Linked DNA regions of Homo sapiens. The protein of the gene in region 1 interacts with the protein of each later gene in a pairwise test. Each region holds a gene or a part of one and is shown in the gene's direction. Other genes may lie near its edges.

Evidence for each region.
Region 2: the proteins of MS4A3 (region 1) and ADIPOQ interact in binary tests that used the Homo sapiens proteins (3 or more experiments, as listed by UniProt).
Region 3: the proteins of MS4A3 (region 1) and TMBIM6 interact in binary tests that used the Homo sapiens proteins (3 or more experiments, as listed by UniProt).
Region 4: the proteins of MS4A3 (region 1) and ERG28 interact in binary tests that used the Homo sapiens proteins (3 or more experiments, as listed by UniProt).

Annotation. Positions count from the first base shown.
Region 1 is NC_000011.10:60,066,663-60,071,648, forward strand, and holds the end of MS4A3 (membrane-spanning 4-domains subfamily A member 3), read left to right. Parts: intron 1-288; coding exon 289-450; intron 451-2,911; coding exon 2,912-3,013; intron 3,014-3,541; coding exon 3,542-3,571; 3' UTR 3,572-4,453; downstream 4,454-4,986. UniProt on the Homo sapiens protein: Hematopoietic modulator for the G1-S cell cycle transition. Modulates the level of phosphorylation of cyclin-dependent kinase 2 (CDK2) through its direct binding to cyclin-dependent kinase inhibitor 3 (CDKN3/KAP).
Region 2 is NC_000003.12:186,852,691-186,858,979, forward strand, and holds the end of ADIPOQ (adiponectin precursor), read left to right. Parts: exon of another isoform or gene 1-360; 5' UTR 361-368; coding exon 369-582; intron 583-1,087; exon of another isoform or gene 1,088-1,182; intron 1,183-1,442; exon of another isoform or gene 1,443-1,493; coding exon 1,494-2,014; 3' UTR 2,015-5,773; downstream 5,774-6,289. UniProt on the Homo sapiens protein: Important adipokine involved in the control of fat metabolism and insulin sensitivity, with direct anti-diabetic, anti-atherogenic and anti-inflammatory activities.
Region 3 is NC_000012.12:49,758,533-49,765,445, forward strand, and holds the end of TMBIM6 (bax inhibitor 1), read left to right. Parts: intron 1-150; coding exon 151-230; intron 231-688; coding exon 689-789; intron 790-3,171; coding exon 3,172-3,247; intron 3,248-4,340; coding exon 4,341-4,364; 3' UTR 4,365-6,402; downstream 6,403-6,913. UniProt on the Homo sapiens protein: Endoplasmic reticulum (ER)-resident protein that confers cellular protection as an anti-apoptotic protein by limiting multiple stress-inducing pathways surrounding the endoplasmic reticulum and mitochondria.
Region 4 is NC_000014.9:75,650,877-75,657,911, reverse strand, and holds part of ERG28 (ergosterol biosynthetic protein 28 homolog), read left to right. Parts: intron 1-378; 5' UTR 379-409; coding exon 410-542; intron 543-2,935; coding exon 2,936-3,026; intron 3,027-6,022; coding exon 6,023-6,141; intron 6,142-6,277; coding exon 6,278-6,357; 3' UTR 6,358-7,035.

The DNA of each region.
Region 1 (4,986 bases):
GATTCTCCTTATCCCATTCTGTTAGCCCCTAGTACTTAATCACTTTCAAAAATATTATGTAATTTACCTATAGTATGTTTACTTTTTTCTTTGTTTTTATTGCTAGAATATAAGCTCCATGGAGGGTGGGGGACAGAAATCTTTCTTTGGTCATTGATGTTAGCCTCGCATCTAGGATATCAGTGGGTGTGTAAACAATATTCAATCAATGTTTGTTTCAATGAATTGTTGCCAAAGGAATGAAGTACGTGCTGCATATATTAATTGAAAATTCTTATTCTTTTTTAGATACAGAACAGTTTTGGAATGAACATTGCCAGTGCTACAATTGCACTAGTGGGGACTGCTTTTCTCTCACTAAATATAGCAGTTAATATCCAGTCATTAAGGAGTTGTCACTCTTCATCAGAGTCACCGGACCTATGCAATTACATGGGCTCCATATCAAATGTATGTTTCTGAAAAATATGTATAAGTATAAAATATTTCAAACAATCCAGGATGTACAGAAAAATAATATATCAGGTACCAATGTGCCATAATTTGAATCTTTTTTTTTTTTTTTTTTGAGACGGAGTCTCGCTCTGTCGCCCAGGCTGGAGTACAGTGGAGTGATCTCGGCTCACTGCAAGCTCCGCCCTCCTGGGTTCACAGCATTCTCCTGCCTCAGCCTCCCGAGTAGCTGGGACTACAGGCGGCCACCACCATGCCCAGCTAATTTTTTGTATTTTTTTAGTAGAGACGGGGTTTTACCGTGTTAACCAGGATGGTCTTGATCTCCTGACCTCGTGACCCGCCCGCCTCGGCCTCCCAAAGTGCTGGGATAAGGGGCGTGAGCCACCGCGCCCATCCCATAATTTGAATCTTGGGTCTGTCGCCTATTTGCTTTATAATGAAGGGCAAATTAGATAATCCCTTGAATTTTCTCATTTTTGAAATGAGGATAACAATAGTACCCGTCTCATAGGATTTATGTGAGTATTTAAAAAGTTAACATATGATAAGCAATTAAAACAAGGCTTAGCATATCATGATACACAATTATTATTACCACAACTACTACTATTACACTCCCCAGAGAGATTTTTTTTTAAGTTTCATTTCACCGGGCGCGGTGGCTCACGCCTGTAATCCCAGAACTTTGGGAGGCCGAGGCAGGCGGATCACGAGGTCGAGAGATCGAGACCACCCTGGCCAACATGGTGAAACCCCGTCTCTACTAAAAATACAAAAAAAAAAATTAGCCGGGCATGGTGGCAGGCGCCTGTAATCCCAGCTACTTGGGAGGCTGAGGCAGGAGAATCACTTGAACCCGGGAGGCGGAGGTTGCGGTGAGCCGAGATTGCGCCATTGCACTCCAGCCTGGGCAAAAAGAGTGAAACTGTCTCAAAAAATAAAAAAATAAAAAAATAAAGTTTCATTTCATATCTCCTTGCTTAATAAAACAAACTTGAGAGATTTACAACTTTCTCTGCAATCTGGAATGTTCAAATAATGACTTGAAGTTTTGAAGGACTGCGCTTTAGAATGAAATTAGCATGGTGTTTTCAAAGGAAAGCTCTTTAATAACCTTACCTTTTTTTTTTTTTTTTTTTGAGACGGAGTCTTGCTCTGTCACCCAGGCTGGAGTGCAGTGGCGCCATCTCGGCTCACTGCAAGCTCCGCCTCCTGGGTTCACGCCATTCTCCTGCCTCAGCCTCCCGAGTAGCTGGGACTACAGGCGCCCGCCACCACGCCCGGCTAATTGTTTTTTTTTTTTTTTTGTATTTTTAGTAGAGACGGGGTTTCACTGTGTTAGCCAGGATGGTCTCGATCTCCTGACCTCGTGATCCGCCCGCCTCTGCCTCCCAAAGTGCTGGGATTACAGGCATGAGCCACCGCGCCCAGCCAACCTTACCAATTTTTTAAAAATTTGTGTTCAGGTACTCTACCTCTTCTGAACTCTACTTAGAAATTAATATTTTCCTTTGGAATTATCCATTTCATCCCAGTGATCTATGAACTGTTAATTACAGACTCACTCCTAAGCTTCCTGTTTTCTTTTTATTATTATTATTATACTTGAAGTTCTAGGGTACACGTGCACAACGTTCAGGTTTGTTACATATGTATACATGTGTCGTGTTTGTTTGCTGCATCTATTAACATGTCATTTACATTAGGTATTTCTGTTAATGCTATCCCTCCCCCAGCCCCCCACCCCACGACAGGCCCTGGTGTGTGATGTTCCCCGCCTTGCGTCCAAGTGTTCTCATTGTTCAGTTCCCACCTATGGGTGAGACACTACTTATGGAAGTTTGTGTTCTCATTTTCTTTATTACATTTTTAATGATCTAAATTTATATTTGTCGGAGCCTGATTTTTCTGTGAATTTGGAGGTATTTTTCCTCCAGGGATATATTGTATTGGTTGCTTCTAGGTGCCTCAGTAATAATAGTAGAATCATTAGCCCAACAATTTTATTTTTTGTTTATATTAGCTCAGTGTTTTAGTTTCTAGGGATAATGTAAATGCCTAAACCCCTATGAAGTGCTAATGAAATTGTGGAAGGGCCATTTTTGTTCATTTTTCTAAACTGCCTACTCCTCTCCTTAGTTTACTACTATTCAGATTGGAAGATGTTAGTGATAATGTCAGAATTTTGTTTCTACAGCTTCTTCCCCCTGTAGCTACTTCACATGCGTTGACATAGAAATGTGACACATCTTTCTCATTAGAGAAAATGTTTTCATGCTTTTAGATTGAGATACTATCTCTTCTACAGTGTTATATGTGTCTCTGTCTTTAATTTATGGTTCACTTTGTTCCACTTTACGGGAGGGAGATGTTGTAGTCTGGTTTCCTGCTGACATTTTTTTTTTTACCTCTGGATGTTGCCACTGGGTTTGATATAAGGCATCATATCCCCTAGGGCATGGTGTCTCTACTGCTGATTCTCACCTTGCTGGAATTATGCGTAACCATCTCTACCATAGCCATGTGGTGCAATGCAAACTGCTGTAATTCAAGAGAGGTGAGATTTTTCAAATGATTAATCATTCACATGATCTCAAAGCCTCCCTGTAGGGTTTGAAGTTGTTTCTGATGCTTAGAAATAAACCTTTATGTGGTAATGATTTGTGGAGTTCCTGGAATTAGAGATTGTATGAATGTTAGAGATGGAATGAAGGGTAGAAAAGAATTTGGATGTGAACATGCAAGAGGAAATACTGTACTTGATATATAAGAGCATACTTTCTTATACAGCTGTAATTAAGTTTTATTATTTTCTTATAACTTGTAACTTTCTAATTGTATGACCTAGGAAAAATTAATAATTCTTTCTAAATTTTAGATATATTAACTGTAAAATGAAAATAATATTTTCATTCTCTTCTAATGTTTGTTGTGAGTACTGTGTATATAATCTTTATGGCATTTGGCACAGTAAACATCAATGAATGGATTTTATTGTTGATGATTATGATGATAACAGGAAGGGATGGGAGGAGAAGGAGATAATGATCCTGTTCTTGGACATTAATGTTGTTTTATTTTCTAGGAAATTTCCTCACCTCCCAATTCTGTGTAATCAAGAATACCTCCTTAATTCTGAGAGCATGAATATTTGACCTTAAATCTCCAGTGACTCAGAGCTTCACCCACAAACTCAGGAGAACATAAGCCTGCTCGTAAAGCTCAATCCTTCTATCATGGCACCAATCACAAGAACCTTGGACGTTTGACTGACTCTATCCTTTCTCTCCTAACTATAAATCCTATTTGTGTGTCGTGGGTATGGAAGGACAGATATATTTCTTTAGGCATTCTTGGATATCTGTAACTTCTATGATCATTACTCCAAAGTTGTTTCCAGAAATTGGTTCTATTTCTTCTTATCCACCTACTCCATTGCTTTATGAGGTTTAAGGAAGGAAGGCGGTATAATCCCTATTCAATATATTTTTTCTAAAATCCAACTTCTGACCGCCCAGTAGGAAGAAAAATGAGACATTTTTTCCATTACAGAGAAATGCTTCTTGACTTTAACATCAGCATTATAAAAAGTGTCAAATAAAAAATTACCATCATTATCATTAAAATAAATTTTCACTGTATTTGAGATGGGAGGGTTAAGGCTCAGGGATTTTATTTCAGTGAACTGCTGGAACTCACACATGCCCTGATATGTAAATGATGATTTATGTTGGCGAGTCTGAGAGCAAGCCCAAATGTGTTCTTCAAAGGACAATGGGAAACTGTAAAGTAGAGAACTAAAGAATAAGGCCTTTAGAATCTGACACATCTGGGTTCAAATTCTGAAACTGTCACTTATTACCTGTATGAACATGGGCAAATTATCTAATCTCTCTGATCTATTTTTCCTCATCTGTAAAATAGGTGTAATAATAACAACTACTTTGTCGGTTGCTCTGAGGGTTAAATGAAAATAAAAAGAAAATGTGAAACAGCACCACAGGTACTTGACAATGATGTTGCTGTTGTTGTTGGTCTTGCTGTTGCTGGTGAAAGCTAAGGTGGGATTGTGGTCAGATGTGCTGGAGAGATACAGTGGAAAACTTACTTACACTTCCATTGTGGCTCCTCGTATAACCTCCAACAACTCCAATAGCCATCTTTTCGAGGTGGCAATGTGGCGTGAAAACTTCCCTCAGTTCCTCGTTTATAAATCTGCTAAAGCACTTATATTTCTTATTCATAAATATCCAAGAAAAATAAAATTTATGAATAAGAAATATAAGCACTTATTGTGTCCATAAATTTATACCAATAATTTATTCTTAGTTACGTGTATATCGTATGTGCAAAGGTTCTTTTCTAACACTTGTATCCTACTTATATAATAATTATTTCTTTATTTTTTAATCCATTCTGCAGCGGGATAATTAAGGAACCAGAGAGACTGAGGGGTTGAGGAGGAATTATTTAATTATTTAGGTGCACCGACCCAGTCGGATTAACATCCAAAGGACTGAGCCCCAAACA
Region 2 (6,289 bases), on another chromosome or scaffold:
TGGGAAACCCAAGGATGGATTCTTGGCAAGTCGACTCTTGGAGCTTTCCCTGTGCTTGGTCCTGTGCTCAGACATGGGAAAATTAGAGGAGTGTCATCTGTGCAATCACTGAATTCATAATCTTGGTGAGGAAAGGAGACTACACACAGGGAATAATGCTAAGTATTACAGATTTCAGGGCAGAAAGAGATCAAGGTGGGCTGCAATATTCAGAAAAGTCTTCCTGGAAAAGTTGAATACTTAGAAAGCAGCTCCTAGAAGTAGACTCTGCTGAGATGGACGGAGTCCTTTGTAGGTCCCAACTGGGTGTGTGTGTGGGGTCTGTCTCTCCATGGCTGACAGTGCACATGTGGATTCCAGGGCTCAGGATGCTGTTGCTGGGAGCTGTTCTACTGCTATTAGCTCTGCCCGGTCATGACCAGGAAACCACGACTCAAGGGCCCGGAGTCCTGCTTCCCCTGCCCAAGGGGGCCTGCACAGGTTGGATGGCGGGCATCCCAGGGCATCCGGGCCATAATGGGGCCCCAGGCCGTGATGGCAGAGATGGCACCCCTGGTGAGAAGGGTGAGAAAGGAGATCCAGGTAAGAATGTTTCTGGCCTCTTTCATCACAGACCTCCTACACTGATATAAACTATATGAAGGCATTCATTATTAACTAAGGCCTAGACACAGGGAGAAAGCAAAGCTTTTTTATGTTAACCATAAGCAACCTGAAGTGATTTGGGGTTGGTCTTCCAAGGATGAGTGTAGATGGTGCCTCTATAACCAAGACTTTGGCTTTGCTGCATCTGCAGCTCCTTTTCCATCCCCTTTCCCATCTTCACCCTCATCCCTATTCCCAGTACATTCATATTCTGATTCCTCTTTCTGTCTGCTTAACTTCCATTTCACCCAGTGGCATTCAACCACATTTACTGCACACCCCCTGAAAGGCTCAGTCCTGCCTTTGGGGAACTCTTGATCTAGGTAAGATGTCTAATGTGCAAGGCTCTGTTGGTGGTTACTACAAGAAAGTCTACTCTAAAAATGTCAAACTGAATGTGAACAAGTATTCAAAGTATGGAGCATAGAGAAAATATACTCACCGTGGACCTGATGAAGAATGAAGGCTTCAAGGAGGAGGCAGAGCTTCAGCTAGGCCTTGAATGATGGGTAGGCAGAATAGAGGAGGAGAGACATCCTAGATGGAGGGGGTAGAATTGCAAAACCAGGGTTGATGGTGCCAGCACATAAAGGGCTGGCAGGGTGGAGGGTCTATGATAGAGACCTATAGGAGATAAAGATAGAGTTGAAATTATGGGAGCCTCCATGTCTGTGGGAGATATAGAAGGAGGAGGTAACACCTCTCTCCTTTTGGGAGCTCTTATTGGTTTCTTGATCTATAAGTCAAGAAGGTTGTGAGTGGGAGCCACAGGGATGGTAATTTAGGCTGTAACCAACCTAGGCAGGAGTTCTGTTCTTTGTAGTCACTGAGGTCTTCTCATTCCTTAGGTCTTATTGGTCCTAAGGGAGACATCGGTGAAACCGGAGTACCCGGGGCTGAAGGTCCCCGAGGCTTTCCGGGAATCCAAGGCAGGAAAGGAGAACCTGGAGAAGGTGCCTATGTATACCGCTCAGCATTCAGTGTGGGATTGGAGACTTACGTTACTATCCCCAACATGCCCATTCGCTTTACCAAGATCTTCTACAATCAGCAAAACCACTATGATGGCTCCACTGGTAAATTCCACTGCAACATTCCTGGGCTGTACTACTTTGCCTACCACATCACAGTCTATATGAAGGATGTGAAGGTCAGCCTCTTCAAGAAGGACAAGGCTATGCTCTTCACCTATGATCAGTACCAGGAAAATAATGTGGACCAGGCCTCCGGCTCTGTGCTCCTGCATCTGGAGGTGGGCGACCAAGTCTGGCTCCAGGTGTATGGGGAAGGAGAGCGTAATGGACTCTATGCTGATAATGACAATGACTCCACCTTCACAGGCTTTCTTCTCTACCATGACACCAACTGATCACCACTAACTCAGAGCCTCCTCCAGGCCAAACAGCCCCAAAGTCAATTAAAGGCTTTCAGTACGGTTAGGAAGTTGATTATTATTTAGTTGGAGGCCTTTAGATATTATTCATTCATTTACTCATTCATTTATTCATTCATTCATCGAGTAACTTTAAAAAAATCATATGCTATGTTCCCAGTCCTGGGGAGCTTCACAAACATGACCAGATAACTGACTAGAAAGAAGTAGTTGACAGTGCTATTTTGTGCCCACTGTCTCTCCTGATGCTCATATCAATCCTATAAGGCACAGGGAACAAGCATTCTCCTGTTTTTACAGATTGTATCCTGAGGCTGAGAGAGTTAAGTGAATGTCTAAGGTCACACAGTATTAAGTGACAGTGCTAGAAATCAAACCCAGAGCTGTGGACTTTGTTCACTAGACTGTGCCCTTTTATAGAGGTACATGTTCTCTTTGGAGTGTTGGTAGGTGTCTGTTTCCCACCTCACCTGAGAGCCATTGAATTTGCCTTCCTCATGAATTAAAACCTCCCCCAAGCAGAGCTTCCTCAGAGAAAGTGGTTCTATGATGACGTCCTGTCTTGGAAGGACTACTACTCAATGGCCCCTGCACTACTCTACTTCCTCTTACCTATGTCCCTTCTCATGCCTTTCCCTCCAACGGGGAAAGCCAACTCCATCTCTAAGTGCCGAACTCATCCCTGTTCCTCAAGGCCACCTGGCCAGGAGCTTCTCTGATGTGATATCCACTTTTTTTTTTTTTGAGATGGAGTCTCACTCTGTCACCCAGGCTGGAGTACAGTGACACGACCTCGGCTCACTGCAGCCTCCTTCTCCTGGGTCCAAGCAATTATTGTGCCTCAGCCTCCCGAGTAGCTGAGACTTCAGGTGCATTCCACCACACATGGCTAATTTTTGTATTTTTAGTAGAAATGGGGTTTCGTCATGTTGGCCAGGCTGGTCTCGAACTCCTGGCCTAGGTGATCCACCCGCCTCGACCTCCCAAAGTGCTGGGATTACAGGCATGAGCCACCATGCCCAGTCGATATCTCACTTTTTATTTTGCCATGGATGAGAGTCCTGGGTGTGAGGAACACCTCCCACCAGGCTAGAGGCAACTGCCCAGGAAGGACTGTGCTTCCGTCACCTCTAAATCCCTTGCAGATCCTTGATAAATGCCTCATGAAGACCAATCTCTTGAATCCCATATCTACCCAGAATTAACTCCATTCCAGTCTCTGCATGTAATCAGTTTTATCCACAGAAACATTTTCATTTTAGGAAATCCCTGGTTTTAAGTATCAATCCTTGTTCAGCTGGACAATATGAATCTTTTCCACTGAAGTTAGGGATGACTGTGATTTTCAGAACACGTCCAGAATTTTTCATCAAGAAGGTAGCTTGAGCCTGAAATGCAAAACCCATGGAGGAATTCTGAAGCCATTGTCTCCTTGAGTACCAACAGGGTCAGGGAAGACTGGGCCTCCTGAATTTATTATTGTTCTTTAAGAATTACAGGTTGAGGTAGTTGATGGTGGTAAACATTCTCTCAGGAGACAATAACTCCAGTGATGTTCTTCAAAGATTTTAGCAAAAACAGAGTAAATAGCATTCTCTATCAATATATAAATTTAAAAAACTATCTTTTTGCTTACAGTTTTAAATTCTGAACAATTCTCTCTTATATGTGTATTGCTAATCATTAAGGTATTATTTTTTCCACATATAAAGCTTTGTCTTTTTGTTGTTGTTGTTGTTTTTAAGATGGAGTTTCCCTCTGTTGCCAGGCTAGAGTGCAGTGGCATGATCTCGGCTTACTGCAACCTTTGCCTCCCAGGTTCAAGCGATTCTTCTGCCTCAGCCTCCCGAGTAGCTGGGACCACAGGTGCCTACCACCATGCCAGGCTAATTTTTGTATTTTTAGTAAAGACAGGGTTTCACCATATTGGCCAGGCTGGTCTCGAACTCCTGACCTTGTGATCTGCCCGCCTCCATTTTTGTTGTTATTTTTTGAGAAAGATAGATATGAGGTTTAGAGAGGGATGAAGAGGTGAGAGTAAGCCTTGTGTTAGTCAGAACTCTGTGTTGTGAATGTCATTCACAACAGAAAACCCAAAATATTATGCAAACTACTGTAAGCAAGAAAAATAAAGGAAAAATGGAAACATTTATTCCTTTGCATAATAGAAATTACCAGAGTTGTTCTGTCTTTAGATAAGGTTTGAACCAAAGCTCAAAACAATCAAGACCCTTTTCTGTATGTCCTTCTGTTCTGCCTTCCGCAGTGTAGGCTTTACCCTCAGGTGCTACACAGTATAGTTCTAGGGTTTCCCTCCCGATATCAAAAAGACTGTGGCCTGCCCAGCTCTCGTATCCCCAAGCCACACCATCTGGCTAAATGGACATCATGTTTTCTGGTGATGCCCAAAGAGGAGAGAGGAAGCTCTCTTTCCCAGATGCCCCAGCAAGTGTAACCTTGCATCTCATTGCTCTGGCTGAGTTGTGTGCCTGTTTCTGACCAATCACTGAGTCAGGAGGATGAAATATTCATATTGACTTAATTGCAGCTTAAGTTAGGGGTATGTAGAGGTATTTTCCCTAAAGCAAAATTGGGACACTGTTATCAGAAATAGGAGAGTGGATGATAGATGCAAAATAATACCTGTCCACAACAAACTCTTAATGCTGTGTTTGAGCTTTCATGAGTTTCCCAGAGAGACATAGCTGGAAAATTCCTATTGATTTTCTCTAAAATTTCAACAAGTAGCTAAAGTCTGGCTATGCTCACAGTCTCACATCTGGTTGGGGTGGGCTCCTTACAGAACACGCTTTCACAGTTACCCTAAACTCTCTGGGGCAGGGTTATTCCTTTGTGGAACCAGAGGCACAGAGAGAGTCAACTGAGGCCAAAAGAGGCCTGAGAGAAACTGAGGTCAAGATTTCAGGATTAATGGTCCTGTGATGCTTTGAAGTACAATTGTGGATTTGTCCAATTCTCTTTAGTTCTGTCAGCTTTTGCTTCATATATTTTAGCGCTCTATTATTAGATATATACATGTTTAGTATTATGTCTTATTGGTGCATTTACTCTCTTATCATTATGTAATGTCCTTCTTTATCTGTGATAATTTTCTGTGTTCTGAAGTCTACTTTGTCTAAAAATAACATACGCACTCAACTTCCTTTTCTTTCTTCCTTCCTTTCTTTCTTCCTTCCTTTCTTTCTCTCTCTCTCTCTTTCCTTCCTTCCTTCCTCCTTTTCTTTCTCTCTCTCTCTCTCTCTCTTTTTTTGACAGACTCTCGTTCTGTGGCCCTGGCTGGAGTTCAGTGGTGTGATCTTGGCTCACTGCTACCTCTACCATGAGCAATTCTCCTGCCTCAGCCTCCCAAGTAGCTGGAACTACAGGCTCATGCCACTGCGCCCAGCTAATTTTTGTATTTTTCGTAGAGACGGGGTTTCACCACATTCGTCAGGTTGGTTTCAAACTCCTGACTTTGTGATCCACCCGCCTCGGCCTCCCAAAGTGCTGGGATTACAGGCATGAGCCATCACACCTGGTCAACTTTCTTTTGATTAGTGTTTTTGTGGTATATCTTTTTCCATCATGTTACTTTAAATATATCTATATTATTGTATTTAAAATGTGTTTCTTACAGACTGCATGTAGTTGGGTATAATTTTTATCCAGTCTAAAAATATCTGTCTTTTAATTGGTGTTTAGACAATTTATATTTAATAAAATTGTTGAATTTAAGATGGATGACTGTTTTATTTGTTTGCTGTTCACCACTTCTGTTTTATTCTCTTTCCAGAATTCTTTTGGATTGTTTAAATATTTCATAATATTTTATCTTAATTTATTTATTGGGTATTTGCCTATATCTCTTTGTGGTATTTTTTAGTGGTTGCTTGAGGGATTACAATGTACTTAACTTTTCACAGTGTGCATAAAGTTAATATTTTGCCACTTGCAGTAAACCGTAGAAGGCTTATAATCATATTAGTACCTCTATCCACTTTCTTTTATGTTGTAGTTGTCATATATATTACATCTATATACACTGAAACATTATAGGCAATGTTATGATTTTTGCATTCGTCAGTCATATATATATTTTAAAGAATTTAAGAGGAGAAAAATACATATTCAGATATTCATCATTTCCTTTGTTCTTTATTAATTTCTAATGTTCTGTGTTTCTCTCTGGTGTAATTTCTCCTCAACCTGAAAAACTTTATTGAGCATTTATTTTAAAGCAAGTCTGTTGAT
Region 3 (6,913 bases), on another chromosome or scaffold:
TCACTAGTACTCCTTCCTTACCCCTAACTCCTTTGCGACTATTGAGTTGAGATTAACCTTCATTCTGGGGGAAGTTAAGGAATGGCTTTAATGGGATTGCTTTACTTTGCCTTGGCTTCTCTCAAGACAGCTTTTTGCTGTGTCTTATAGGTATCTTGATGTCAGCCCTGAGCTTGTTGCTTTTGTCTTCCCTGGGGAATGTTTTCTTTGGATCCATTTGGCTTTTCCAGGTAAGACTTAGCCTGGAACTTTCCAGCAGCCATTTGCCTCACACTTCTTTCTTTCCTTTTTTTTTTTTTTTTGCACTTCTTTCTGTACTACTTTGGGCAGTGCTCTCTAAGCCTTCCCATTATCCTTCATAGGATGGAGCCTTCTGCCACAAGTGAAAACAGGCTGCACAAGGTTGGGCATTGCTAAGAGAAAATGGTTTGCTCAGACACCATTTGTGTAAGGCCAGTCTGGCAGTGGCTGATTGTTAAAATGATTGAAACTCTTCCAGTGACCAGTGCAGTATTGTGCCTAGGGAAGTAAAGTGGTCTTCACCCTAGGCTGCAGTTCTCGTGAATGGTAATGTTCATAGGGTTCACATTTGATGTACTTTCAAGTGACTATGAGCCAGAAAGTATGGCTGGTTTTTTTTTCTCTGCAACTTCTGCTGTATAGTAACTTCATCTCTTACATTTGTTAGGCAAACCTGTATGTGGGACTGGTGGTCATGTGTGGCTTCGTCCTTTTTGATACTCAACTCATTATTGAAAAGGCCGAACATGGAGATCAAGATTATATCTGGTGAGTGTGGGAACTAGTCTTTAACAAGCATGAAGGTTGAGGCATACCGTTCAGCAGCTGAACTTAGGTTGGCATTGGCTGAACATAGGTGGCCAAGCTTTGGGAGTGTATGTGGTAGGAAACCCACGGTTTTGGAACTGTGTACCATAATCTTCCTCAATTCCTGAAAGATTTCAGATTTTTTAAAAATCTGGGCTAATAGGCCAGGTGTGGTGGCTCACACCTATAATCCTAGCACTTTGGGAGGCTGAGGCCACTGGATCGCTTGAGCTCAGAAGTTTGAGACCAGCCTGGGCAACATGGCGAAATCCCATCTCTACTAAAAATATAAAAAAATTAGCTGGGCATGGTGGCACATGTATATAATCCCAGCTACTCAGGAGGCTAAGGTATAAGAATCATTTGAACCTAGGAGGTGGAGGTTGAAGTGAGCCAAGATTGCACCACTGCACTCCAGCCTGGCAACAGAGCGAGACCCTGTCTCAAAAAAAAAAAAAAAAAAGTGTGGGGGCCGGGCACGGTGGCTCACGCCTGTAATCCCAGCACTTTGGGAGGTCGGGGCAGGCGGATCACGAGGTCAGGAGATCGAAACCATCCTGGCTAACACGGTGAAACCCTGTCTCTACTAAAAATACAAAAAATTAGTCGGGCGTGGTGGCGGGCACCTGTAGTCCCAGCTACTCAGGAGGCGGAGGCAGGAGAATGGTGTGAACCGGGGAGGCGGAGCTTGCAGTGAGCGGAGATTGCACCACTGCACTCCAGCCTGGACGACAGAGCGAGACTCCTTCTCAAAAAAAAAAAAAAAAAAAGTGTTGGGGGGTGGCTATATATTTACATATCCATAGTGGCTACCTCCAAGCAGAAGTGAGGGAAAGAGATCTTTCTCCTTTTCCTATTTATACTTCTGTATTTTTTAAACAATGAGTAGAAGATACACTCTTTTTTTAGAGACAGGGTCTCGCTCTGTTGCCTAGGCAGTAGTGTGGTGCCATGAACACAGCTCGCTGCAGCCTGAATTTACTGTGCTCAAGCAGTACTCCTGCCTCAGCCTCTTGAGTAGCTGGGACAACAGGCACGTGCGACCATGCCAGGCTAATTTATTTTTTGTAGAGATGGGGTCTTACCATATGCCCAGATTGGTCTCAAGCAGTCCTCTTGCCTTGGTTTCCCAAAGTGTTGGGATTACAGGCTTAAGCCACCATGCCCAGCCACTTTTTTTTTTTTTTTTTTTTTTTGAGACAGTTTTGCTTTGTCACCCAGGCTGGAGTGCGGTGGCAACATCTCAGCTCACTGCAACCTCCGCCTCCTGGGTTCAAGCGATTCTTGTGCCTCAGCCTCCCTAGTAGCTGGGATTACAGGCACTCTCCACCACGTCCAGCTAATTTCTGTAATTTTAGTAGAACGAGGTTTTGCCACGTTGCCCCGTGAGGACATGGTGTCGAACTCTTGGCCTCAAGCAATCTGCCTTCCTCAGCCTCCCAAAGTGGTGGGATTACAGACATGGGCCACCATGCCCAGCTCACTTTTTTTTTTTTGAGACGGAGTTTCGCTCTTGTTGCCCAGGCTGGAGTGCAACGGTGTGATCTTGGCTCACCGCAGCCTCCGTCTCCCGGCTTCAGGTGTTTCTCCTGCCTTAACATCCTGAGTAGCTGGGATTACAGGCATGCACCACCATGCCCGGCTAATTTTGTATTTTTAGTAGAGATGGGGTTTCTCCATGTTGGTCAGGCTGGTCTCAAACTCCTGACTCAGGTGATGCCCGCCTCAGCCTTCCAAAGTGCTGGGATTACAGGTGTGAGCCACTGTGCTCGGCACTTTTTTTTTAATGTAGTGATTCTCTCAGTCTCATGACTAATTAGTGGTAGTTAAGGGTTCAGACTTGGACCTCTGCAGAGTTCAGAGCGCTTGAGACAGGGCTTGCTCTGTCACCCAAGCTGCAGTAGGAGAGTGGCACTGTCATGGCTTACTGTAGACTCAAGCTCCCTGGGCTCAGGTGTTCCTCCCATCTCAGCCTCCTCAGTAGCTGGGATTACAGGCACATGCCACAATGCCCTGCTAATTTTTGTAGAGACGGGATTTTGCTATGTTACCCAGGTTGGTCTCGAACTCCTGGGCTCAAGCAGTCCACCTGCCTCAGCCTCCCAAAATGTTGGGATTACAGGCATGAGCCACTGTGCCTGGCCCAGTCTCTTTTCTCTATGCTGCATGACTTCGATGAGTCTAAAGGATCTCAGACACCAGAGTTTTACTTCCTTAGTTGGGGGTAAAGTGTGGGAGAAGCTGGCTCGTGGGGGTAGGGGTGGGGTTTATATTCTGCATCTTTGTGGGCTTGTGGATAAAAAAGTCTGAAGTACAGATCCTAATCTGGTTCTTGCCTTTCAGGCACTGCATTGATCTCTTCTTAGATTTCATTACTGTCTTCAGAAAACTCATGATGATCCTGGCCATGAATGAAAAGGTTAGTTAGCCTACAACCCAAAGATGAGACAATAATGGCTCCTGAGCTTGGCATGTGTGTATACTTCAGATTTGAAAACTTGCTCACACACTGTGTTAGGTCCAGGGTAACTGTAAGGCAGGCCACTGAGTAAGAGGTAAGCCAGAAGTCTTCAGTTGTTAGAAAAAAAGCAGCAAGTGAAAAAAAAATTTTTTTAACTAATTCCTGCGTTTAGTATGAAAGGGAAAAAAGCTTCAGTGGCAGTAAACACAACCTGCTACATGAATAATTTAAAGGCTATATAGTTGTGACTCAGAGAAAGGTATTGTGGAGGACGTTGTAAATTTCAGAAGTAGACTAATTTTATCCATTTGTTAATTTTTTTTTCCAAGGAAGCATTCTATATAGGGCTAATGAGTATCTAACGTAGTTGAGTCAAGCAGTGGGGGAAACAAATGAAATGAGCTTTTCTTTATAGACCTTATGGAGCTTAGAGATAGCATAGTGGTAGCGGGAGTAGTTGACCAGATAGGATTGCTGGCTCTGTCTGGGCTATGCCATGGTTGGACTGAGCACTAGGCAGATGTACAAGTTTCAGAACAAGCAACTGAATTTTCATTCCTTAATACATTGGGCTTCCATCCAAGATTGAATGAAGAATTCTGCTGGACCAAATTATTTCTGAATGTCAGTTTATGCCAGAGTCATGCTCACTTTGCAGGGTGGAGCACTTCTCGCGCCTAATGGTTGGTTGGTGGTCTTGGCCTCTAGTTTCACTCTTTGAGGATAGAGTGCCATCTGCAGCCTTCACTGTTGGGATCTGAGCTGTAGTGGCTGTGAATAGCCTAGAGTGGTCAGGCAGCCCACCTCGGCACTCCTGGGGTGGGGGTGGGGACAGCTGCTTAACCTTTATTCTTGGTCGGTCTGTCGGCAACTTTGGGAACCACCAGTAGGATGTGGTTAAGATTCAGTTCTTGCTGAGCTAAGGAAGCATTTCTCATTTCTTTTTAATTGTCTGGCTCACTTCTAGTCCCTAACTAAATGCTCACTCAAGAGTTTTAGCTTGAATGTCAAATGTCAAAAAATTAATTGGGTGATTTTTCTCCATTTCTAGGATAAGAAGAAAGAGAAGAAATGAAGTGACCATCCAGCCTTTCCCAATTAGACTTCCTCTCCTTCCACCCCTCATTTCCTTTTTGCACACATTACAGGTGGTGTGTTCTGTGATAATGAAAAGCATCAGAAAAGCTTTTGTACTTTGTGGTTTCCTCTATTTTGAATTTTTTGATCAAAAAACTGATTAGCAGAATATAGTTTGGAGTTTGGCTTCATCTTCCTGGGGTTCCCCTCACTCCCTTTTTTGTCAACCCCATCTGTAGCCTCTTCCTCTACTCAGGCAGTCGACCCGCCACGATGAGAAGTGGGACCAGCAGAGGGCGCCAACTTCAGGAGTCCGCTTTCCCACCAGGCTTCATTCACCCAGTGGACCTGAACTGTTTGGTAGAGCCACCCGGCCCTTCCTTCCTCATTGTTGTTTGGTATGCGCACAGTTCCTGTGGGACTGGGCCGTGAGTTTTCCATTGGAAAGAAGTTCAGTGGTCCCATTGTTAACTCAGCCTCAAATCTCAACTGTCAGGCCCTACAAAGAAAATGGAGAGCCTCTTCTGGTGGATGCTTTGCTCCCTCTGAGCTGCCCATGCTGGTCTGGCAAACACACCTTTCTGCTTTGCCTTCACAAAAGTAATGTGTTCCCTTTCCCACCCCTTGCCTGACCCTCAGGGAGTCAGCCTGCTTCCATCCATGGGTGGGAAGACTTCAGCACAAAGGAAAGACTAATTCTTGTCAGGCATTTTTGAAAAGGCTGATTATGTGTATCAAGGTACAGCATCGTAGGGTTCCCCTAAACTTGCCCTGTTTTTGTTTTTTTAGTTTGTTATCCCCTTACTGAGCGGCCTCTACTAGGTGGCTGTGATTAAATGTCCCAAGCAAGGATAGGGAAGGGGAATGGTTGAGCCTCTGGAGATCATTGTAACCAATCCTGCCAGACCTGTTTGGGGCAGTGGGGAGCAAACCTAGATAAGGACCTGTTTGGGGCAGCAGGGAGCAAAATCTCCTTTAACAACCAAGCAGTTCCTCATTCACATCAACAGAGCGAGGCTGTGATAACTTAGGAGGCAGCAATCCTAATAGTCCTTCAGTGCATTTTAGTCTGTCTCCAACTGGACACCAGTAGGTAGTGTCAAGCCAGAGATTCGGGGCAGTAGATAAATGTTCATTTTACTGATGCACTTTAGTTTTTGGTCTGTTACCTGTTTTCCAGAAATTTGTGGCCTTTTAGGCGGGAGTTAGGCGACCAAACCAGTGAGAGCCCCAATCCCTGCAGTTTTGTGGCTTCAAGTGTGGGTGGACAGTCCTAATGGGGATCTCCAGCTCCTTCCTGTGGGCTGCCACAGACAGCTACCCCCAGAAGGGTCAATGTTGGGAGTGGTTGTGGCTCTGAGCTGCTCTACAGAGCTTCAGTGTGAGAGGATCGAGCCATTGAAAGCTCATTACCAGTAGGACATAATTTTTGGCTCTCCCTATTCACAACCAGTGCACAGTTTGACACAGTGGCCTCAGGTTCACAGTGCACCATGTCACTGTGCTATCCTACGAAATCATTTGTTTCTAAGTTGTGTTTATTCCTGGAGTGACATGCCACCCCGAATGGCTCACTTTCACTGAGGATGCTGTCCTCTGATTTAGCTGCTGCCTCCAGCCTCTGGCTTGAGAACTTACTAAAGGCACTTCCTTCCTGTTAAACCCCTGTTAACTCTCCATAAATTTGGTGATTCTCTGCTAGGCCTAAGATTTTGAGTTAACATCTCTTGAAGCCAAACTCCACCTTCTGTGCTTTTTGCTTGGGATAATGGAGTTTTTCTTTAGAAACAGTGCCAAGAATGACAAGATATTAAAAAAAAAAAAGAAAGAAAAAAAAAAAAACACCTACTTTTAAAGAAAATACCTAACAGATTTTTAATATAGTTATCTCTACCACTTTCTTTTCTAGTTTCTTGATTTTCAGCTCAGGCTGCATTCTAACTCATACTGTGAAGACAAAGGTGTTTTTGATTCAGAAATATATGAAATCTGCATAGTCTTAATTTGTAAAAAATAAAGAAAATTCCTTAACCTTTCCTGGTGTTTGTGTTAAATTCAAGGGTACAGCTGGTCATGGAGCTTGTGATACTGCCAGGGTTTGCTACTGGGGGCTGGGAGTGGGACACGATTGAGTTCGTGTCATAAGTATGAACAGAGACAAAGACCTCCCACTCTGTAGCCCCAGCATGCCACAAATGTTGAGAATTTTCTCTGTCAAATATGTAAGCCAGTTTTTTTTCCAGTCCTCTCCACCCCCTGCCACCTTTGCTATATGTTGTTTGTGGTGATATGTGCAGTTGGTTCAGATGTGCAGCCAAGCTTTGGAGTTTGAGGATGCATAATGGAAAAAAGGCAAATGATACCCACTCATTCTGCAAGTATTTTTGTTCACCCACTGCTGCCCGGCTGTATTCTAAGTGCATTAGTTAATAAAGATGTAAAAGTTGGCCAGGCATGGTGGCTTATGCCTGTAATCCCAGCACTTTGGGAGGCCAAGGTGGGCAGATCTCGAGGTCAGGAGTTCAAGACCAGTCTGGCCAACATGGT
Region 4 (7,035 bases), on another chromosome or scaffold:
CTACTCAAATTTATAAAGTTCCATACACTTGGAAGAATCCGTCATCAATAGCCAGGCAGGTGTCTGTGAGTATAGTTATAATCGCCTTTGAGCTATTTGCATTACGAAGGAATGGCATGAAAACATGAAGGTATAGAAGTAAAGATAGAGGACTGATTCCAACCCAGAAAAAGGAGTTCTGATTTAGGGTAATATTTTGGAGAAATTGCTTAGACAAGGATAAGTACTGTGCCACTTATTGCAAAGTATACTGTTCATTCACCACTATTAGTGTGACTGAATTTCTTTTTTTGGCCTGCTTCATTCTTCCTCCCTTCCTGCTTATGGTTAACATAGACTGGCCCTCATTGTCTCATGTCCTCTGCCTTTGTTTCCAAGGCAAAAAGCCCTCCCACGTTTGAGGGGAGTCATGAGCCGTTTCCTGAATGTGTTAAGAAGTTGGCTGGTTATGGTGTCCATCATAGCCATGGGGAACACGCTGCAGAGCTTCCGAGACCACACTTTTCTCTATGAAAAGCTCTACACTGGCAAGCCAAACCTTGGTAAGAAATCAAAGAATTTCTGCATCCTTTATAGGACTTATAGGACTGGCCCTATGCTGTGGTTCCCAAACCAGGCTGTACATCAGAGTAACCTAGGAAACGTCAACAAACACAGGTACCCATTTCCCTCACCAAACCTATTTATTGAACCTGGGTGGAGCTCAGGAATCCAGTTGCTAAAACACTTCCCAGATGATTCTGATGCTGCCTTAGCTAGCCTTTGGCAGCTACTGGAGTAATAGACTTTGTGGTGAGCACTTGACCCTTTTTCCCCCAAGCTTCTCTGAATACTTTTCATTGATTTTACACTGCCCTGGGCAATTCATGTATTTAAAAAAAAAAAAAAAAAAGCATTATAAGGGCAAGTGAGGAAATAGACTTACTTGGTGACTCTGTGATGCCTGACAAGAAAGCCATAAAGAAGCTTTACATATATCTCAAAGCCCTCTTCAGAATCAGGTTTACATGATTCTGGGGCTTACATGACTCATATTCCATGTTACAGATGGAGAGTTATTAATTCAAGGTCTTCCGTGACATAGTCCCTGAGAAGGTATTTAAAATCCCTTCAAGTTGGTCTCCCAAAATGAAACTTAAGAAGGCCCATGGCAGCCTTTCCTGGCTTCCTGAGCCTCTCTACTGAGAGTGTCCATTTCAGCTTCCACTTCATCACGCTGATGTGTGGGGTAGTTTAAGCTGCAGCACTGTTTCACAGCAGATGACAATTCTGTGTCACATTTATAGCTAACCCAGATTCAGGCTCTGACCTAGCTCGTTTTTCTGCAGTGTCTGAGTATAAAATGAAATTAAGTAGGCTAAGGCTCATTTTAAGAAAGCTCAAATATAATAAGAGTAAAGAACCTGGGAAAGTGAGCAGAATAATTCCATCTTTTCACCTTCAAATGCTGCCCTCAGGTGGTCATGGAACCCTATATAGATTCACACATTTTTAGAGGTCATCTGGTCTAGCCCTTTGAGTTTAAAGTTGAGGCAAAGAGGTCCAGAGGTCATGTGACTTAAAGGCATATAGCTGAGCAGAACTTTATGTGTGTGTGTGTGTGTGTGTGTGTGTGTGTGTGTGTGTGTGTGTTCAGCCAGCACGGAAGCTGAGGCTGCCATCTCCCTTGTGATCTAGGGGCCTTCATGGTACTCTTCTGAAAGTAGCAGTGCTCTAAAGTGTCCCACAGAATTTCACCTCATACCTAATCTGGTTAGGGCTGGTTGAGTACTCTTAACTAGAGAAACGTCCTTAGTCTTCTCATTATCAAATTGGTTTATAAAGAATATAGCTATCCAGGGCTAATGCTAGATATTTGGTTGGCATATGGAATTTTTTCTCACTACCATCTAATGGTCTTCAGTATTGTGAATTTGGGAGAGCTGTCTGATTTTCCAAAGGCTGGAAAAATCCTTAAAGCCCAAGTAAACATTAGTAGACTTTTCAGTTGTCAATTTTGTCCCTTAAAATTTATCTTACTCAGCAGGTAGTAGACCAGCAAAGGAAGTATCTTTGCTTTCACTGTTTTGGCATCCCCGAGCCACTGGATGCCTTAGCTCAATGGTTTTGCATTTAAATTACCCAAACAGGGAGTTTCTAGAAAATACTTATGCCTGGGGCCCTCCTCCAGAGAATACGATATAGTTGGTCTGGTACCCAGGCCTTGTAATTTTATAAAACTACCTCAGTTGATTGTAATAAATGCCCAAAGTCAAGAACCACTGTTATGGTGGAATATGACCTATACTTTCAGGACAAGATATTTAATACAGCAATGTCAGAACAAAGCTACCAACAGCAGGATGCCCCCAGCAAACACCAAAGAAACAGTGCTTTGTCCCACTGCCATGCACACAGGAAACCAACCTGGTATTGGTTCATCCAACAGCATAGATCTGGATGCAGGAAGAGACCCAGGCACTCACATATCTTAAAGACCATATATGGGCATCTAAATTGGTCCCCAGTATCTCTGAGTTCTCTCCTGGATCAGCCTTGAAAGTCTGCTGGCCTCCTGGGCATCTTGCATTTCCAGATCAGTCTCTACAACGTTCCCCAAAACCTGTCCTGATCCAGACCCTCTAGGCTTCCAGGACAAAAGGGGTAAATTACTATATCTAGGAGTTATTTGCCTAACTGGGCTCTTTGTGGGTTTCCACTCTTGGAACTTCCCTTCCAACTGTAGACATTTGAAGAGAATCTGAGAAGTTCTCATTCTGGAATTCCTTCTATTCCTTCTAGTTCCCATGTTGCCACTAGGACCTCCATCCTGCCCAGCCACAGAGAGGTCAGGTCCAGCTCCCTATCTCCCATGAACCACCAGTGAAATAGGAGGAGTTTGGAAGGAACCTCAAGTCTCCCCTTCTGAACACTCTTGCTTTTTTCTGCTACACAGTGAATGGCCTCCAAGCTCGGACCTTTGGGATCTGGACGCTGCTCTCATCAGTGATTCGCTGCCTCTGTGCCATTGACATTCACAACAAGACGTATGTAAGGGAAGGAAGAGCTTTAGCATCCTTTTGTTGGAAATCAGATGCGAGGCATACCTGTTACCTTGAGTAATGGGAACTGTTAATCATTTTAATGCATTAGCTTAGAATGTGAATAATAAAAAACTCACAGGTTACATTCCCTCCAAGCCTAGAAAACATAGTAGACCTAACAGGTCTTCATTAAAGTCTGAAAATTCTTTGGAACTGACATAGCAAACTGGCAGGCCATTATCCAGTGGCCTGCATCATGCCCCTCCACTTCTTTATGAAAGAATCAGCCCTTCTTCTACTAAAGAAGTAGAGTGGTATGCTCTTTTTAGAGTAGCCACCCACACATACCTTTCTCACATTCCTCCTTAAGAAGCAGGAATGAACAGAAATCACAATCCATGAAAAAAGAGGAACCCACAAGTAAACTGTTGTATGTGTATGCAGCATCAGCAGGTGAGGGTGAAAGAGAAGCTAGGGCTCCTGAATCTACCTGTCTTGGGTACTCAAACAGACCAGGGTGGAACAATTGCAGGCAATCAGAAGCCATAACCAGTGCTGGCCACTAGAGGGGGCTCGAGCTTTCTTCCCAGCGGGAGTCATCATCACACTCTAGGTGGAAACAGTTTGTTCAGGTCACCGAGGGAGGCTATCTGAATGCCAACTTCACATTAAAATGTTTTTCTGTCTTATCCAGGCTCTTGGCATCTGGGGAAAACAGGAGGCGATAATATTTATTGAGCCCCTCTTATTATGCTGAGCTTTTATCTACGTGATCTTGATTAAGTCTTTTCTTAGCAGCCCTGGAGGTCATGATTTTCATTCCTGATTTTGCACATCTAAATATTAGAGATACAGTTAGTTTAAAGAAAGACTGACTCAAGTGAGATTTGAAGCAGGGCTATTAGCCGTTTGATCTCTTCAACCTTATTTTTTTTTTTAATTTTTTTTCAAACTTGAACCTGCAGTTTACTTGTCCTAGAATGACACATACTTTTGGAAGCAGTGTGTTTAGTTCTGGGCCCAGTTCTGTTGGTAACTAGCTTTGCAGTAGCAAGTCCATTATTCACCTTCCTTGCACCTTGGCCTCTTCATCCATAAAATGAGAATAGATATCTGTTCTACCTCTCAGGGTGACTAAGAGGAAGGGAGGATTGAACAATCATTTTAAAGACCTGTACCACAATGAAGAATTGCTGATGAGTATGAGGGATATATCTTTTGATTGTTGTGCTTTTGAAGTGAGCGAAGACAACCCAGACTTATCTCTTTTTTTTTTTTTTTCTGAGACAGTCTTGCTCTGTCACCCAAGCTGGAGTACAGTGGCACAATCTCAGCTCCCTGCAACCTCCACCTCCGCCTCCTGGGTTTAAGCCATTCTCCTGCCTCAGCCTCCCCAGTAGCTGGGATTACAGGCGCGCACCACCATGCCCCTCTAATTTTTGTATTTTTAGTAGAGACAGGTTCTCACCATGTTGGCCAGGCTGGTCTCGAACTCCTGACCTCGTGATCCACCCACCTTGGCCTCCAAGGTGCTGGGATTACAGGCTTCAGCCACTGTGCCCGGCCTGACCCAGACTTATCTTTACCTCAGTTACCATTTACTTTCACCTCTCCCCACACAGGACAGCTGCAAACGCTGACTCCTGTTTCTAGACCTTTCTAGCCTAGGACTTTGATCGATGCACTTCTGATGTGCATTCTGATCCTATTCCCTCCCTAACTAGAGACTGAAAGTCAACACACATACATATTGTTTCCACAATGGGCCAGGCGCGGGTGGCTTCTGCCTGTAATCCCAGCACTTTGGGAGGCCAAGGTGGGCAGATCACTTGAGATCAGGAGTTTGAGACCAGCTTGGCCAACATGGCGAAACCCCATCTCTACTAAAAATACAAAAATTAGCTGGGCGTGGTGGTGTGCACCTGTAGTCCCAGCTACTCCAGGAGGCTGAGGCAGGAGAATCACTTGACCCAAGAGGCGGAGGTTGCAGTGAGCCAAGATTGTGCCACTGCACTCCAGCCTGAGAGACAGAGCAAGAGTCTGTCTCAAAAAAAAAAAAAAAAAAAAAAAAGGTGTAAAAATATGCACAGGAGAGATACAAATCAAATGTAAGATACCAGTTACTTGTGGGGATGAGGGAGAACAGACTTAGAGCAGGATAAGTATACACAGGATGATTTAACTCTTCTCTGTAAGTTTTTATTAGAAGAGTCTGAAACAAAATGTCAAGATGTTAAGATCTGAGGGAGCTGGGTGTTGGTTGCATTGGTGTTCATTATAGTGTTCAGTAATTTTTTTGTATGTTTGAAGTATTTCATAATTTTAAAAAATTTTATACTAAAAAGATATCAGCAAACAAAGTGGTCAGTCACCTAGTAGCCTGTCTCTTCTCTACCTTATAGTCAAAGCTGAAAGATAAGTTCTTTTCCCATGAGGTTGTCACCATGTCCTCAATGTGACTACTTTTCTAGGCTAAGGCACAAAGTAACCAACGTATATTGCAAGAGCATCTAAAAGCCCCAGAGGTGTCCTTGCTCCTTACTCCCCATGAGGCCGTTCGTTCTGTGGCATCCATCTTATAAACACCGACAAGTGCATGGCCAGATGCCTGCCAGGTGGGATTAGACTGCAGAGTCAACCAATTTGGATAAATAGAATATGTAAGCGTGCTGGATCCAAAGTTGTCTACACTGCCTGCGATTGTCATCATTCAGGCTCTGCTTTGCTATAGCTGAGTTCACCACTTTGCTGAGACCTGGACGTTCATTCTGGATGCCTGAACCATTCTCCTCTCAGTTTAGCAGTTGAAACCTTCAGTTTTGCCCTAGATGAGAATATCGTTGTGATCAAATAACCAGCTCTTCCTCAGGAACAAGTGTCCTTTCTTTTAAGTCTTAATGACATCCTGGGTTCTTATTTGTCTGTATGAAGTCTGATACTTTTCCTCTGTTCTGAACAAACAGTAACTTTGGTTCCCATTTCTGTCTGCTTCCTTATAGGCTCTATCACATCACACTCTGGACCTTCCTCCTTGCCCTGGGGCATTTCCTCTCTGAGTTGTTTGTCTATGGAACTGCAGCTCCCACGATTGGCGTCCTGGCACCCCTGATGGTGGCAAGTAAGCATCCAACCACCCTAGACCTCCTACAGGAGCTGTGCCAGCTCTAGAGCTAGTACAGAGGGTGGACACAGGAGAGAGAGAGAAGAAAGGTACCGTATGTATGTTAGTCACTAGTCTTTCCTCTGTATTTAAGGTTTCTCCATCCTGGGTATGCTGGTCGGGCTCCGGTATCTAGAAGTAGAACCAGTATCCAGACAGAAGAAGAGAAACTGAGGCCAGCATTATCACCTCCAGGACTTTCTCGTTTTCCACCTTGGCCATCTTCTTCCTTCGTCGTCTCTCCTCTTTAATTTCTTTTCTATTCCATCATCTGCCCTTTTATTCACTTTTAGCCTCTTTTTTTAATTTTTAAAATTTAAAGATATGCATACTGAAAAGTATATAACATGTACGTACAATTTAAAGAATAATTTTAAAGTGAATACTACGTAACTCCATCCAAGTCAAGAAATTGCCAGCTTCTCGGAAGCCCACTGTGTCTCCTTCCCCTACCTGCAACCTCTTCCAGGCTCCCTTTTCCAGCCTTCCCCTTTTTCCCTTTTATTTTCATGCCTTGATTTGACTTGTGTGGTGGGAACATGTGAACTATGAAACTTAAACCTGCTGCCCACCCAGAGCAGCTGTGACCAAGGGCTGCCTCAAGGGGTTGTCCACGCAGGTTGGGCTCCTCTCTGCTGCTGGACCCAAGACTCTGAACCTTCCAAGGGACAGGCAGTTCTTCTAAGAAGGGCTCCCCTGTGTGTGAGCAAGACCACAGCTCTCCTTCTATCTACAGATGCATGAGGGTTGGAAGAGTCTGGGCTGTTTTTAGACCTTCTGGTCAGCTGTATTTGTGTAACAACTTTTGTAATAAATAGAAAAACCCTCTGCTCTGATCAGTTCTTGTACTTT